Regions from separate parts of the Homo sapiens genome. Here region 2 is linked to region 1. The links come from fine-mapping of genetic effects on gene expression. A gene starts in region 1. The other region holds a variant in brackets. All regions are shown on one strand. Distances are from middle to middle. Region 1 holds the start of IFT27 (intraflagellar transport 27). Region 2 holds the start of LOC124905112 (a long non-coding RNA gene).

Region 1 (5,367 bases):
TGTGAAATTAAACTAATTAATCCCTAAAATCACTTAGAACAAGGCCAGCCTTAAGTCTGTGGTCAACATAGGCCAGCTGTGACTATTAGAGCTGCTCAGAAATGGGATAACTCGAATTGCTCAGGAGCCCCCATGGCTCCAAAATTCTCTGACCACCTTAAACCTAGTGACTCTCATTCAGCTTACCTTCAGTCACAGAAATGTATAGAAGGCCCTTGGGTCCATGAGGTGAAGGGGGACAGAATTCACCATACAAGTGTTTACCATCTCTCTAGAAAGTTCTACAATGCTCTTATGATAATGCTGACTAAAATCACACAGAGTAGCAGCAACAAAAGGGAGACAGTGGGTGGGGAACAGAGAACAGCCCTGGGAGGGAGGTGTGATTATTACCTGCAAGAGTTAAAGAAAGAGGCAAGAAACATGAAAAGTGGCTCAACAGTTAAATACAGGTTTATTTTGGAGCATAAACCTGAGAGGGGCTTCTGGCCAATTTCAGTCAGGAGTGCTCTCTCTTACAGACTAAGAGTATTTAAGGGTTTAGGGCAAGAGAGCTTACCACAGGCTTGGAATGTTTCTGTGTGGAGGAGAAGTTTACTGTGGGGTTGGAATGTCTCCGGTCTGAGGGTGGGTTATGTTGGGGCTGACATCTCTCTGACCAGAGGGGAGGTTATCTTGGGGCTGCATGTCTCTGGTCGGGGGGTGGGTTTATCTTAGGGTTGGAATGTTTCTGATTGGAGATGTCACTTGTGGTTTATGGTCATTCTGACATTAGCCATTAGGCTGATGCCCTTTGGGTTGAATTTAGGCCGTTTTTGATCAAGGAGAACTTTAAAATGGCAGTGCTTGTCCAAGATGGCTATGCTCCGGCTCTGTCATTACCCACCTCGCAAAATGAAGGAACCAAGGCTTCGGAGGCTGCCCTGATGTGTGTCTGTGTCTTAGCTACGTGGAGCTGCCTCGGGAGGGTGACTCACCAAATGGGGTCCTTTAAGGGATTAACAGGGTCACTCATGGTGAACAGGTTGGCCTGGAGGGGAGCCGGCAAGAGGAAGGCAGAAGACCAGAAAGAGGCTTTTTGCTCACTCAGACCTGGATGTCTGAGACAGACTCACGTGATGTCACCAAAGAAGAAAAGCAGTTACGAGAAATGAAGGAGAAACAGACCTTTACCGTAGCGCCAGGAATGAATCCCAAGGAAAGAACATCTCAGACAACTTGCATTTACTCTGGATTCGGGGCTGAAACCATCAGCCATTCATAGAGTGTGTGTGTTTATTCCCCCACACAAGGCTGGCAGCCACTCTGAGATGCAGAGTGGCGGAGAGGTGGAATGTTCTAGGTGTCTGGAGGGAATGTGGAACTTTCGCACAGGCACCTTTGCTGAGGGGCTGCTCTTCCCTTCAGCATCAGCCATCAGAATCCCAGGGGCCCTGAGAAAGTGAGAACAAGGGGTACATTCGGCCAACCAGTGACAGTGATGATAAACCAAATCTGTCCAGATAAGCTTCCGCTCTCCCATCCACCCCACAATCACGTGTGCACCTACTATCTCCCAGGCACTCATACGTTTCTCTCCTTCCATCTCCACAACCACCCCACAAGGCGGGTTCTCCTAGGCCCATCCTGAGGCTGAGGGATGAGGTGACTTGTCCAGGCCAGGGATTTAGGTCTCTGACCCCCTAACCACGTGCAAGAGGCACCCCCAACCCAGTAAACGCGTACAGAGAGCCTCCCTGGGTGACGGGCAAACGAGGTTAGTGATGCATTCTCCTTTTGCAGAGAGTAAATGGACTAAGAGCAAAGTACGACTTCAAGTTTCCGAGTCTCACCGCTTAGCCCCATCAAAGTGTATTTGTTCTCCCTTTGTTCACAAACATCACTTTAATAAAACACCTTCATATTTTAGATTTTAACGCTCATTACATCTTTGAGCTTTTAAAATGAGATTTCCCTGCGGGATGCGGGGCAAGGACTGCACTTCTCCATGCACTTTAATAGCCGCGCTGTGCAGAACCCGGGAACCGGGGAAGCCGCGAGAACCGCGCGAAGTCAGAGCAAGTCAAAACGACCTCTACAGCGGCGGCCTGGCCCACTGCGCAGGCGCCGCTCCAGACCGCCTAGAGCCCAACCTGCCCCATTGTAGGCGAACCCACTTCTAGAAGGACAGCGGGAGTGGCGAATCCCTATTCCTCCCGAAGATGGGTCAAGCCAGACTCTGACCAATCAGAAAGCTTCTCTTGTCACCGCTTCTGACTGCTTGACGTGGAGGCTTCTTTATCTCGGGACTCTCAGGCGCAGCGGGGGCGGGATATAAAGCTGGTTGACGTCAATTACAACCACTCGTCAAGCAGACTGAACTTGAAGAACTGATAACTCTACGAATTGCATCTCAAGAAAAGGCTGTTATCCCAGCTCTCTACTCCCATTGGATTTTTGTGAGACCTTGAGGGTGGGAGCTTTTGGCGGCAACCAATCGAGGGTCAGCGAGGAGGAGGAGGAGGCGGGGCAGGTGGGCTATGGTTGCTTGGAGAGTGCATCCGGCCCGGTACTTGTGATCGGAGGAGAGCCGGATCGTCCTTCCTTGAACCCTCTGGGTAGGGCTGTGCTGAGGGGCTGGGCGGGGAGCACAGGCCGTGTCCGCTCGCTTGCACCTTTTCAGACTGCCGTGTCAGGCCTCGAGCCGGGCCCACCTGGAGCCCTCCCCTGCCCACCCGCCCCCAGCGCCCGATATCCGCCCCCGGCCCAGAAGGGCCGGGCTCGGTCATCCCCAGTCCCGTCGCGGCCACTGACCCTTGAGATCAGCCCTCCCCTCCCCACCTTCCCGTCCCAGGCCAGCCCAGGGCCCGAAGCCCACCCACTCGCGTCTCTAGCAGCCGCTCTTGTCCTCTGGGTACGGCTCGCGGGAGTGTTGGTTACCATGGTGAAGCTGGCAGCCAAATGCATCCTGGCAGGTGAGTCTGAAAACTTGCGCTTGAATACGGTGGTCTCTGGAGTCCAGAGCCTTCATAATTCATCCAGAGCTTTTGTTCACCTAAATTGCCTACCTTTTCCTTTCTCTCTCCCAAAGGCGAGTTACTGCAATTACTGATACAGTAAATTACGTTAGGCGTGGAAGAATGATCTTCCAGGGCACTTCGCAGCTCCAGTGGATTTCCCCCTGCTCCCTGTCACATACTCTGAGACCACCTTCACCAGTTGAGGTGACTCGTTAAAAAATCACTAGTTACAACTCTGGAGAAGCAGACTTGTTAAAACAAAACAAAACAAACAAAGCTTAAGCAAACCTTGAGTGCTTCAGCTAAACATATACTGTACCCCAAAGTTAGGCATCAGTGACTTTGGTAGTCTTTACTATGGGATTTTTCCCCCGACCTCACCCCCTCTGATAACGGTGACCTGAGTGTAGTGACCAGAGTTTGCAAAAGGCACTTGTGTGTTGTCTTTAAGACCCAAAGTTACTGTGCTGCCCCACTCCAAGAAGGGCATAAATGTTGAGTCTCCCAAAGGCAGGAATCTTTGTTTTGTTGACTGATACATCCCAAGCACCCAGAACAATGCCTGGAACATAGTAGGTACTCAATAAATACTTTTAGAATGGATGAATATGTGAATATGTGGCATGCACATTTGTAGTGTACCCCTTGTATCAGTCTGCACATTTAGAAAAACAATATTTTGGATTATAGACTGCGAAACACATATGCATGTTACTGAGTGCTTACTGCATGTGAAGCACACATATTTCATGTAATCGTCTCACCATAGCACACTGGGCTAGGTACTGGATTGTTTTTCTTTTTTTTTTTTTTTTTTGAGACGGAGTCTCACGCTGTTGCCCAGGCTGGAGGGCAGTGGCGCAATCTCGGCTCACTGCAACCTCCACCTCCCTGGTTCAAGCAATTCCCCTGCCTCAGCCTCCCAAGTAGCTGGGATTACAGGCGCAAGCCACCATGCCCGGCTAATTTTTTTTTGTATTTTTAATAGAGCTGGGGTTTCACCATGTTGGCCAGACTGGTCTCGAACTCCTGACTTCAGGTGATCCACCCACCTCGGCCTCCCAAAGTGCTGGGATTACAGGCATGAGCCACTGCGCCCGGCCAGGTACTGGATTGTTCTGATCTTACTGAGGCACTGAGAGATGTCAGCCAAGGTCAACCCCTAGTGAAGGCCCTATGCAGGATTTCAGCCCCTAGATCTGGCCAACTCCAAAACTCTTAACTCGTGTTTCTGTTGAAACCTGTGACCTTTCCAGGCTTCCCTGGCCAGCTCAGGAAAGAAGTGGTGAGAAATTATATAGAGAAAAAGAGATTCCTGTTTTAAAAAATTCCCCTCTTCCAGACTGAGAATAAATGATAATATTTTTAATGGCTTTTATAATTTGAAAATAAAAGGGTCACACAGAAAGATGACTGACAGTAGTAACTGAATCATACTGGAGCAAAATAAATTAATGGTTCTCAGGAGAATCTCCAGTTTCCAGAGCACCAGAGGAGGCAGTGTTGTGTAACAAAAGTAATTTTGCCTGTTCCTCTTATTGGCTGTGTCATCTTGGACGAAGCACTTTTTGAGCTTTAATTTCCTTATGGATAAGGTGGGAACATTATTTTCTGAAGTTACTTTTTTTTTTAAATGGGCTTCTCTCTGGGTTCTTTTTAAATTCGGTTTTCATCATGGAGCTAACTTACTGGCGCTTTGGGTGCATCAGCTCTGCTAGACCCTCAATACAGGTGGTCTCATTGAATCCTCATAGCAACCCTGTGGGATTGGCATTATTGCCATCCTCATTTACAGATGAGGCAACTGAGGCCCAGAAAAATGAGAACATTTGCCATGGGTCACAGAGCTGGAAGTGGCAGAGCTGTATGATCCAGACCCTGGGTCCCAATCTGATTTCCAGGGCTTTAGCCCAAGCTACTCTGTCCTCAAGTAGTGCTCCTCTGTGTCCTTCTATTTTTTTTTTTTTTTTTTTTGAGACGGAGTTTCACTCTCATTGCCTAAGCTGGAGTGCAATGGCACAATCTCAGCTCACTGCAACCTCCACCTCCTGGGTTCAAGCGATTCTTCTGCCTCAGCCTCCCAAGTAGCTGGGATTACAGGCGCCCACCACCATACCCAGCTAATTTTTTGTATTTTTTAGTGGAGACTGGGTTTCACCATGTTAGCCAGGCTGGTCTTGAACTCCTGACGTCAGGTGATCTGCCCGCCTCGGCCTCCCAAAGTGCTGGGATTACAGGCGTGAGTCACTGTGCCCGGACCTTTTTTTTTGAGGCGTAATTTCACTCTGTCTCCCAGGCTGGAGTGCAGTGGTGCACAACCTTAGCTCACTGCAACTTCCACCTCCTGGGTTTAAATGATTCCCTGCCT
Region 2 (5,367 bases), 30 kb after region 1:
AAGTTTTTAAGCAAAGAAGAAAGTTGCATGAACAAGTATCCTATTATTTTCAAAAAAATCAGCAGCTCATACATTGTATCTTGATTTTATTTCACATGGCAACTCTTTAAAGTGGCTGTTTGTGTCCCACTGCGCAAAAGAAGAAAATGCACCCCAGACAGATGACATGACACTTGGCTGCTTCTTGTGACCTCAGGCTCCTTCTCGACATCTGTGAGTCTTTTTTGCCTCCTGGCTCATTGCCTCATTGTAGATTCCAACAGCAGCAACCTTGCCCAGGGGCAAGCTGAATGCAAGGTACAAGCAGGGGCTTGAACCCCTGTGAGCCACACTGTGCTCCCAGAATCTCCCCCAAAGCCTCTTCCAGCGTGTTTCCTCTCACTCAACCTTCACAGCCACCCCAGGAAGCCAAGGCAACTGTTTTACGTTACGGCTGAGGACGCAATGGGCCCATGACCTGCGTTCCCCAGTGCAGGCTCCTAGCGATGTCACAGCTACCGTCAGACTCTGTGAATCTCAGGAAACCTCCAGAGGAAGGTCAGGCCCTTCCCAACCACCTCCCTGCAGGTGCTTGCTGATCTCAGGGGCAGAAGGTGGTGACGGTCGAGAAGCAATGTGGGGCGGTTTCACCTGCACGCGGCACCCAAGGCTTTGGAATCACACAGCCTCTGGGTGCGAGTCTTTGCTCAGCTCTACCTCACTGAGTGGCCTTGGACAAGTCACTTCGCCTCTCTGGGCCCTAACATCACCTACTTCAGATGTTTGCTGAGGGTTCACAGCCTGGCGATAGCTGCAGACCCCCCAGCCCCTGCTGAGTGGGACACTCGCCGCTCACCCTATTGTTTCGGTTGTTGCCGCTGCTGTTGTGACCCTATCCTGGATAATCCCAGGGGTGGAGTCTGCTGCCCTCCACCCTTCGTCCAAAGGAGCTCTGGGACTAGGAGGCCTGGGTCCCCGGTGAGTGACCCCTGGGAAGAGTGGCTTGCCATGGCCCCAGAGAGGACTGGAGAGAGGCCCAGCAGGGGCTAGGAGGCCTGAGCCCAGTCGGTCTCTTGCCCTGGCTGAGAGCGCCTTTGCCTTGGGGCCTCTGGCATGACACTAGTGGGTTAGCAATCCCTGGAGTCCTCGCGTCTCTCACTTCTTTGGGTTTCCACGCACAGCGTGCAGGCAAGAAGCGTTTAAGGAGCAGCCTCGACACAGAGCCCCTGTGTCTCAACAGGCCCTGGCTTTTTGACCACCAGCCACCAGCCAGGCCCCGCTGTAGGTGCAGGGGCTTAAGAGCTGGACAGGGCAGATGAGCCTCCTACTCCTTGCTCCATGGAGCACACAAGCTGGTGAGGGAGAGAGACAATAAGTCAGTTTGCAATCCCGTAGAAAACCACAGGTTGTAAAAATCACTGGAAAGAAAAGAACAGAACCCTCTATACAAGACTCCAAAGGAGTCTTAGCAGGGAGGAGGTGTCCAGCAGCAGCCTCTCTGTGGAGACATGAAGGAGCAGGAGTCAGGCAGTGAACGGGGAGTTGTACATTAGCCAGAGGAAATAGCATGTTTGAGGGTCCTGCGGCAGAGGAGGTTGGCCCACAAAAGGCCAGAACTCCTGGGCACTGAGTGAAGGGAGCACGGGGAAAAGAGTTTCCAGCCGAGCGCAGTGGCTCACACCTGTAATCCCAGCACTTTGGGAGGCTGAGGCGGGTGGATCACTGGAGGTCAAGAGTTCAAGACCAACTTGGCCAACATGGTGAAACTCCAACTCTACTAAAAACACAAAAATTAGTTGGGCGCGGTGGCGGGCGTCTGTAATCCTAGCTACTTGGGAAGCTGAGGCAGGAGAATTGCTTGAACCTGGGAGGTGGAGGTTGCAGTGAGCCGGAATTACGCCACTGCAGTCCAGCCTGGGTGACAGGGTAAGACTCCATCTCAAAAAATAAAATAAATAAAATAAACTAATAAAATAAATAAGAAGAGGCATCAGAAGCCCAGCCAGAGCTTGGGAGTTACCTGATGTGCAGGGGGAGGCCGCTGAAGGGTGTTGGTTGAGGGAGGGGGTGATGTAATTTTGGAGTTGGAGTTAAGGGATTGGGTGTCCTCACGGTTTCCCTCATTCATGCCTTCACTCATGAGACAGTTACAGAGCACCAAGGCTCAGCGAGGTGCAGGACTGGCCTGGGGCGGGGGGTGAGGGGAACCTGTGCTGTCTGACCCCCCAGCAGCCTCTCCAGGGCCTCCTCGGCTGGGCTGATAGACCTGTGTTTTAGCTTGAACCTCTGTCCACCACCCTTCAGGGAGGACCTCACACACGCCTTGGCCGGCGTGTGATGGGCACTCCTAGGAGGCATGTGGTGTGAGCCAGAGTCGGATTGGAACTCAGGATGGGAACAACGCCTGCACAAGGAGAACGTCCATAAACAGCTGCAGAAGACCAAAAGGGAGGGGTGGAGGAGGGAGTCCTCCCTCCACCATTGCTGTTGTTATGACCCAGCCACTCCCTGGGGGCTCACTCCCTCTGGAAAATGGTAGGTTAGAAAAGACCAGTGATTCTCTCTCTTTCTCTTTTGCTTTTTTTTTTT[A/TTA]AGAGACCAAGTCTCGCTATATTGCCCAGGCTGATCTTGAGCGCCTGACCTCAAGCAGTCCTCCTGCCTCAGCCTCCCGAGTAGCTGAGATCACAGGTGCATGCCACTGCGCCCAGCTTGACATTGATTCTATGATAACAGCAGCCCGTGGAATGGTGGAAGCAGCCAGACACACTTGGGAATTACCTTGGGTGAGTCTATTGGAACCTCAGCTTCCCCATCTGTAAAATGGGATGGTTGTTACTCCCTTGCTGGGCCACTGTGAAGGTGAGACGTGCCGTAGGAGCACGCCGAGCACATAGTGGGGGCCTGGCCAGGGCAGCTGTTCTCACTGCATTTCAGAGGGGGTGGCTACAGCAGTCCCCAGCCTGCAGCAGGAGCTCTCAGCAGAGCCCCCTTCTCTGTCCTCACCCTTCTGGAGTTGCCACATGTTCCCTTCTCTTGCAGCCTCTGGGACTCCCAACTCCCGAGAGAGTGGCAGACACCAGGATATGGCGGTGTTGCCCAGGGCTGAGCCTTGAGGTAAAGTAGGGATCCCACTCCTCCCCCACACAGCATGGGCAGCCTTGGGGCCTCATGCAAGACGGGCCCGGCACCAGCCCCTACCGGGTTGCAAAAGCAGTGCAAAGGCCCAAAGAAAGGTGAGTAATGGAGGGAGGGAGAGCCACGTGGGTCAGGGGGGCTCCAAGATCCCTGGACTGCCAGTGCTGGGTGGAGCAGGGAGATGCCTTCACCTACCCAAACCTCAAATCACATGGATGGGAAGATACAGGCCCAAGCTGTCCCAGTGCACAACCCTCGCAGCTCACACACTATGTCAGCTTCCCTTCTCTCCCTCCCTTCCTTGTGCAGGGCAGGGCTACTTTAGGGCTGAGGCAGGGAGGCTCAGAGAGGTGCAGAGACTTGCCCCAGCCACATGGCTGGCAGTGCGCCTCTGATCAGCACTTCCTCTGTGCCAGGCTTCCACCTCCTTCATCTTCTTTAATCCTTGCAACAACCTTTCAAGGTGGGAGTGATTTGTTTTTTGTTTTGTGTGTGTGTGTGTGTGTTTTTTTTTTAGACAGAGTCTTGCTCTGTCGCCCAGGCTGGAGTGCAGTGGCACGATCTCCGCTCACTACAACCTCTACCTCCTGGGTTCAAGTGATTCTCCTGCCTTAACTTCCTGAGTAGCTGGGACTACAGGCACATGCCACTGCGCCCGGCTAATTTTTGTACTTTTAGTAGAGACGGGGTTTCACCGTGTTAGGGTCTCGAACTCCTGACTTCAGGTGATCCGCCTGCCTCGGCCTCCCAAAGTACTGGGATTACAGGTGTGAGCCACCGCACCCGGCCGGTGGGAGTGATTTTGCCCATTTTACAGATGAGGAAGCTGAGGCTCAGAAAGGTGAAGCTGATTACTCTCGCATGCAGGGAGTGGGACTCGCATAGAACCTTTATTCATTTGCTCACAAAGAAGCAGCTCAAGCAGACAAGCAGGTGCCCGGGAAGGACCCTGTGGCTGGAGATGCTGGAGGAAAGGCCTGCAGAGAAACTGCTGTCCTTCAGGGCCTGTCCCAGGGTAAAAGGAAGACCCAGGTCATAAACACTGTGAACCGGGGGAGCTGGAACCCCTAGCCTGGAGGGTTGGAGAAAAAGTCCCCCAAGAAGGGTGGAGGGAGGGCTTCTGAAGTGGGGCAAGGGGCCAGTAATAACCCAAGGAAGCAGCTACTGAAGACCAGGCACATAGTAAGCCCCCAGCAAATTCCAGTTCCCTTCTGCTCCTCCCTAGGGACACCAGTCCTGCCGACACCTCAAGCCACACACTCAGGGGCTCAACGTGCAGTCAGGAGCTCCCCGAGGTGACTGCAGGGTGGCCAATGCCCCTTGCCACTCTCCTACCACTTTCCCCCACTCCAGTCCTGCCTCAGCTTCACCAGAGCCCCCAGGATCCGTGTCCCCTGCACCCTGCATGACTGGACGCCTGGGTCATATCACACCACAGTTTGCCACACCTGACTGCACGGCGCCCCTGGCCAGCCAAGCTGGTCAACACCTCCAGGACAGCGGCCAAGGCAGTGGAACCCAGCAGAGGTGGAGGAGAAGGTAGGACCAGCAGACCCTCCTGACCCTGTTCTGATCGCACTCACTTACAAGGCCATCTGCTCGGCAGTGCGGCGAGCTCAGGGCACTGGGGCAGACAGTGGCACCCGCCCAGACACGTGCTCGCCTCTGGGGCCTGGCCGGCTGCTGGTCAGGAGGTCTGGCTGGCCTTCTTGCTGCAGCTCCCAGCCTGGCCAGGCTGCAGGGGTGCCTGGCTCCCCAGCCCACACTGTCCCCAGGCCAGAGACCCTGAGGTGGGAGTATGGAGGGTCTCCATGACCTAAGAGGAAGGGGAAGGGGTTTGGGGAGGGGAGGGACAGAGGCAGGCAGTGCATGTCCTCCTTAGGACACACACTGTGTCCTGGTCTGCATGTGGACCCCAGGGCTCTGGAGATCACGAAGAGCTCAGTGGCCCCTGCCCGGCAGGTCCCCAGGGCCCCCTAGAATGACCACCGAAGCCTCCTAATCACCTCCTTACATCTGCTTGGACCCTTTTAATCCAGGTTCGCCTAGGTCTCCAGGGTGCCTGTGTTCTCACGTCATAACATGTCACCCTGCCTGTCTAAAGCCTTCAGAGGCCTCCCGTGCCCCTAGTTAGTGACCCAAATCCTTGCCCTGGTGTGCACGCACCTCACCAGGCTCATCTCGCCTCACTACCCCCACCGCCATCTCCTGGCTGTCTGTGTCACACACACACACACACACACACACGCATTTTTG

The links. PIP is the estimated chance that this variant, and not a neighbour inherited with it, causes the effect.
Region 2: its variant is the best candidate, but not a certain one, in a credible set for the expression of IFT27 in whole blood (INTERVAL, PIP 0.65).

What each region holds. Positions count from the first base shown.
Region 1 is chr22:36,773,261-36,778,627 of GRCh38, reverse strand. IFT27 (intraflagellar transport 27) reads left to right here and starts at 2,509. Exons shown (of 7, transcript NM_001177701.3): 1 at 2,509-2,954. The coding sequence starts at 2,921. RefSeq lists enhancers at 1,117-1,680, 2,208-2,467, 2,246-2,809 and silencers at 2,708-2,757, 2,888-2,947.
Region 2 is chr22:36,743,571-36,748,937 of GRCh38, reverse strand. The region is part of intron 2 of CACNG2-DT (CACNG2 divergent transcript); the gene reads right to left. LOC124905112 (a long non-coding RNA gene) reads left to right here and starts at 2,597. Exons shown (of 3, transcript XR_007068090.1): 1 at 2,597-2,759; 2 at 3,016-4,126; 3 at 4,337-4,763. The variant A/TTA (reference allele first, on the strand shown) is at 2,569.